Linked DNA regions of Homo sapiens: region 1 is linked to region 2. The links come from fine-mapping of genetic effects on gene expression. A gene starts in region 2. The other region holds a variant in brackets. All regions are shown on one strand. Distances are from middle to middle.

Region 1 (2,916 bases), 290 kb before region 2:
CCTTGGTATTTGGCCAGATGTGCTGAAAACTTATGTCCACACAAAAACCTGCACACAGATGTTCATAGCAGCTTTATTCATAATTTCAAGAACTTGGAAGCAACCAAGACATCCTTCAACAGGCAAATGGGTAAACCGTGGTACATCAGTGTTATATTATTCCATGCTAAAAAGAAACAAGCTCTCAAGCCATGAAAGACATGAAGGAACTTTAAATATATCTTAAGTGAAAGAAGCCAATCTGAAAAGCCTACATATTGTATGATTCCTACCGTAGGACATTCTGGAAAAGGCAAAACTTTGGAGACAGTGAAAAGATCAATTGTTGCCAGGGGTTTGGGAGAGGGAGGGATAAATAGGCCGAGCACAGAGGAGTTTCAGGACAGTGAAACTGTTCTGTACAATATTGTAATGGTAGATACAAGTCATTTTGCATTTGTCAAAACCCATAGAATGTACAACACCAAGAGTAAACCCTAATGTAAACTATAGGATTCAGGTGATAATAATGTGTTAATGTAAATTCATCTTCTGTAACAAAAGTACCACTCTAGTGTGGTAGGTTGCTAGTGTGAGAGCCTGCAAGTGGGAAGGTCAGGGGGCAGGGGCTATATGGGAACTCACTGTACTTTCTGCTCAACTTCACCATGAACCTAAAATTGCCCTAAACAAAATATAAAGTATATTTTAAAAATTTCTCAAGTCATATATTTTAAATACCTTTGTTTGATAAGAATCAAAACAAAGTCCATAGTTAATGTGTCTCTTAAGACTCTTAGTCTACAAATTCTCCCTCCTCTTTTTATTTCTCCCTCTTGTAGTTTATTTCTTAAAGAAACCAGGTCATTTGTCCTGGAGAGTTAGAATCCTACATTTTGGCTTTTGTTGATGGCATTATGTTTTAGCACATTCCTCTGACCCCTTGACATGGGTAAGACAGGTTTGATCAGAGATGTGCTTCGTTTTGTTTGCTGTTTGTTTTTGCAAGGTGGCATTGTGGGCTTTCAATCCATTATGTTAGGAGGTGCTTAACGACTGGCTCTCTGTTTAAGATGGTAAAATTCACTAATGTGTTTAGGTATTGTCAGCCTGGTCCAACCATTACAAAATACTTCATCAGTTTTTTCACTTAATTATTTTAACAGCTTTGGGAGGCAGAATAATACAATAATACCCTCCAAATATGTCCAG[T/AT]TTTTTTTTTTTTTTTTTGAAATGGAATGACATTCTGTCGCCCAGGCTGGAGTGCAGTGGCGCAATCTCGGCTCACTACTGCAAACTCCGCCTCCTGGGTTCAAGCGATTCTCCTGCCTCAGCCTCTCAGTCTCCCGAGTAGCTGGGATTACAGGCACGCCCCACCATGCCTGGCTAATTTTTGTATTTTCAGTAGAGACAGAGTTTCACCACGTTGGCCAGACTGGTCTCAAACTCCTGACCTCAGGTGATCAGCCTGCCTCGGCCTCCCAAACAGCCGGGATTACAGACACACACACCATCATGCCCAGCTAATTTTTGTATTTTTAGTAGAGACGGGGTTTCACCATGTTGGCCAGGCTGGTCTTGAACTCCTGACCTCAAGTGATCCACCACCTCGGCCTCCCAAAGTGCTGGGATTACAGACGTGAGCCACCGTGCCCAGCCTTAATGGGTTTTTACTATCTTGAAGTTTCTCATGAGATTTAGTCAGATGTCAGCTGAGAATGCACACATATGAAGGTTTGACTGGGGCTGGAATCAGATCCATTTTCAAGATGGCTAACTCATATGACTGTCAAGTTGTGCTGGCTATTTGTGGGAGACCCCAGTTCCTCTCCATATGGGCCCCATCACAGGGCTGTTCCTGACAGCTGCCGGATTCCCCTGGACCAAGTGATCCAAGAGAATGGAAGCCAAAATGTCCTTTATGCTCTAGCTTAGGATGCCACACGGAATCATATCTGCTACTCCACTGGTCACACAGACCAGTTCTAATTCAATGTGCAAAGAAACAAAGTAATGAATACCAGGAGGTGATAAAAATTAGGGACCATCATAGAGGCTGGCTGTGAGTTTGTATGGATTAATTTTATCCCAGTTATGGTCACATTTTCCTTCTTCACATGTCTGGTACGTTTTTATTGGATGCTCCTTATGGAATATATGTCGTTGAGTACTAGATTTTGTTGCTTTCTCTAAATACTATTGGATCTGACAAAGTTATCTGTGTATCAGGTTGGTCTTTTCAAAGCTCATTTTTAGGACTTCTTAGGATGAATCTAGAACAGTCTTTAGTTCTAGGCTAGCTTTGCCCTACTACTAGGCACAACCCTCTGGGGTTTCTACTGAATCTCCCAGGTTTTCAATGAGGAATCTACATTCTGCCTGATCAAAAGTTAAACATCTCCCAGCTCTGTGAGAATGCTGGAGATTTAGGGTATACCTCTCTGGTTATGCTTTGCCTTGTCTCATAGAACTTCATCCTCTGCATGTGCCATATGTGGCTAAGTATTTAGTAATAGATTCTCTGGTCAAGCTTTGCAAAGCCTGACTTCATGGACATTTATCTTACACAGAGGTGACAAGGTATTTAGAGACATGCTAAAAGGGGCCCCGTGCAGATTTAGGAAGTGCTTTATCCCCATGGTACCTTCTACTCTGGCACTTTGACTTACATATTTTAGCCTGCCCAGAGCCCCTAAACTCTGCCCTATAAAGAAAATGCCATGCTCTGCCTGGATTTACCTTCATATTCTGTGGTTTGGAAAATGTCTCCATGAAGAAAATGAGGATGATTATAGGACTCACTTCATTTGTTTTCTGTCTTTCAGGGATCATAATTCTTCACTGTCTCTTGTCCGGTGCCTCAAAATCATTGTTTGACACACTTTGTCCAGTTCTTTTTTTTTTTTTTTTTTTTTTGAGACAAGGTCTCACTCTGTT
Region 2 (2,916 bases):
TATTTTTAGTAGAGACGGGGTTTCACCACGTTGGCCTGGTCTCGAACTCCTGACCTCAGGTAATCCACCCACCTCGGCCTCCTAAAGTGCTGGGACTTGACTAGCTTCATAGATCACCTTGGGGAGTGTTGAGGAGACAACATAACTTTCTAGCTGGGGTAGTGTAGGAGGAAAATTCTTGGTGACGATAGTGGAAACCACTCTCCCACATCAAAACCATTTGATCTAGCTAAGCTGGAGAGGCCTGAGAAGTGTTGTTTTGTTTTTGCTCATTTCTCACTTGGCAATAAAGACGCCTGTTCTGGGGCCAGCCACCTCCTCCACAAGGGACCCTAGAGCTGTCCAGAGCTATGGAGGTGCATTCCAGCAGCAATTTCTGCTGAGACTCCACTTGACGTCTGCGTTGCTAATTCCAATTTGTTGTCAAATTATTCAATCTAGGCTGGGCGTGGTGGTTCACACCTGTAATCCCAGCACTTTGGGAGGCTGAGATGGGAGCATCATTTGAGCCCTGGAGTCGGAGACCAGCCTGGGCAACATGGTGAGACCCTGTCTCTACAAAAAATGCAAAAATAGCCGGGCGTGGTGGCTTGCGTCTGTAGTCTCAGCTACTCACTCAGGAGGCTGAGGTGGGAGTATCGTTGAGCCCAGGAGGTGGAGACTGCAGTGAGCCGTGATTGCACCACTGCACTACAGTCTGGGCGACAAAGCGAGACTCTGTTGGGGAAAAAAAAAAAAAAAAGAAGAAAGAGATGTAACCTTGGAAAATCAAAAGCAAAAAATAAAACATAAGGCTGGGCCAAAGGCAGAGGGGTGGGGGAAGGAGGCATGCAGAAATGCGTTCTCATTTCTTCTGGAGAATGTGCATTGGTTTCTCCTCGTAAGTTTGCACTTGACACATATTGCCACGATCTCCGAAATCCTGTGCCCTCTGCACTTGACACATATGCCACGATCTCCGAAATCCTGTGCCCTCTGTTGTTGCATCTGTTAAGTTCTCATGGAGACCAGATGGCACCCAAAGGGACATGGAAGGGGAATAAACTGAGAGATAGGGAGATTCAGAGAGTTTCTTAGGGGAGTTTTCTCGGAGAAGAGGCTTTCAGCATCTTAAAACTCCACGCTACTCCAGTCCCAGTCATGCGTAAAGGCTGCTTCCCCACAGGCGCGAGGCTTCTTTTCGCAAACGTCCTGAACACTCAGCCAGACTCCCACCGACATTTGTTTGACAGGAACGCAGGGCTCGTCCCAGTCGCCGAGATTTGCGAGGTCTGGGCCTTGCACATGCGCATGGAGCACACTTGACCACTGGGCCTTCGTGCGCACGCGCGTGGACCTTGCCATCTGAGGTGCGCATGCGCACTTGTGTCTAGCGGGATCGCTTGCTTGGTAACCCGGAGGGAGAGATTGGAAACCGCGGAGTTTCCTTTGGGAGGCTGCGGCCAGCCGGGGCTGACTTGTTATGTTGGGCTCCGGAGGCCGTTAAGAGCCGAGAGAGACATGAGGTGTCTCTGAAGCCCGGTCGCCTGGGCCATGAAGAAGATTTTTAGTAAGAAGGGCGAGTCGCCCTTGGGCTCCTTCGCGCGGCGGCAGAGGAGCAGCGCGGGAGGCGGGGGCGAGCCGGGGGAGGGCGCCTACTCGCAGCCCGGCTACCACGTCCGAGACCGAGATCTCGGCAAGATCCACAAAGCTGCCAGCGCGGGTAATGTGGCGAAAGTGCAGCAGATCCTTTTGCTCAGGAAGAATGGCTTGAACGATAGAGACAAGATGAACAGGTAATAGGCGTCGCAAGCCCGGACTGAGTGCCACTGGAGTAGGCGGGCAGGAAGAGGGGCCCCTTTTGTGGGAGCCACCCAGGGCCTGGATCAGCCTCCCGCGGGCTCCGTAGCCCCTGGGACGGTGACACCTTGCAGGGCTCCAGCGCCCAGGCCGCCTTTCTGAGCAGAAAAACAAAAACAGAACTCTAGCTGGTTTCCGATCCCCCCGAAATCCCTTAGAGAGCACTTAAGTGACAATTTTAAAGTGAATTAACGAACAAAAGCACGTACAGCGTTTTATTTTTAATGTACACATTTAAGATACAATGTCATACACTTATGGAAAGGTGCATAATGAGATAAGCAGTTTCCATAATATAGCAACTTCTGGGTTAAAAATTATTTCTATAAAATCTGTTATTCGTCAGGCGCGGTGGCTCGCGCCTGTAATCACAGCACTTCGGGAGGCTGAGGCGGGAGGATTGCTTGAGGCCAGGAGTTCAAGGCCAGCCTGGGCATTATAGCGAGACCCCCCCCCCCAACTCTAATAGTCTCAGCTACTTGGAAGGCTGAGGCAGGAGCATCACTTGAGCCCAGGAGTTCTAGGCTGCAGTGAGGTATGTCAGTGACAACAGAGCAAGACCCTATCTTTCAAAAAGAAAAAGAAATAAAATGCCTTTAGGAAATAGATATACAAGTAATTTGTTTTTCTCAGCATTGCTTAAGCAGTGTATTAAGGAGAACCCATAGAATGGATTTTGTGAATAAATGTCAGTGCATGATAATATGTGACCATTGAAAGTGGCAGTAGAGGCCAGGCGTGGTGGCTCGCGCCTGTAAACCCAGCATTTTAGGAGACCAAGGCAAGCGGATATCCTGAGGTCAGAAGTTCGAGACCAGCTTGGCCAACATGGTGAAACCCCGTCTCTACTAAAAATACAAAAATTAGCTAGGCATGGTGGTGGGAGCCTGTAATCTCAGCTACTCCGAAGACTGAGGCAGGAGAATCGCTTGAACCTGGGAGGCAGAGGTTGCAGTGAGCCAAGATCGTGCCATTGCACTCCAGCCTGGGCAACAAGAGCAAAACTCTGTCTCAAAAAAAAGAAAGAAAGAAAAGAAAGTGGCAATAGATACAGAAGTGTATTGGCATGTGAGGATA

Alleles and levels. Positions count from the first base shown, and alleles are read on the strand shown. Sizes are in standard deviations (SD) of each study's normalised expression.
In carriers of allele AT in region 1, the expression in Th1/17 cells of the gene that starts at base 1,366 in region 2 tends to be lower than with T alone (large effect, 0.86 SD a copy in Schmiedel 2018).

The links.
Region 1: its variant is fine-mapped to the expression of ANKRD26 in Th1/17 cells (Schmiedel 2018, PIP 0.95).

The regions. Positions count from the first base shown.
Region 1 is chr10:27,386,000-27,388,915 of GRCh38, reverse strand. No RefSeq gene overlaps it. Among named protein-coding and RNA genes, the nearest start is that of PTCHD3, 27 kb to the left of the region's middle. The variant T/AT (reference allele first, on the strand shown) is at 1,192.
Region 2 is chr10:27,098,944-27,101,859 of GRCh38, reverse strand. It overlaps ANKRD26 (ankyrin repeat domain containing 26), which reads left to right and starts at 1,366. Exons shown (of 34, transcript NM_014915.3): 1 at 1,366-1,775. The coding sequence starts at 1,534. RefSeq lists a silencer at 1,520-1,699 and an enhancer at 1,870-1,929.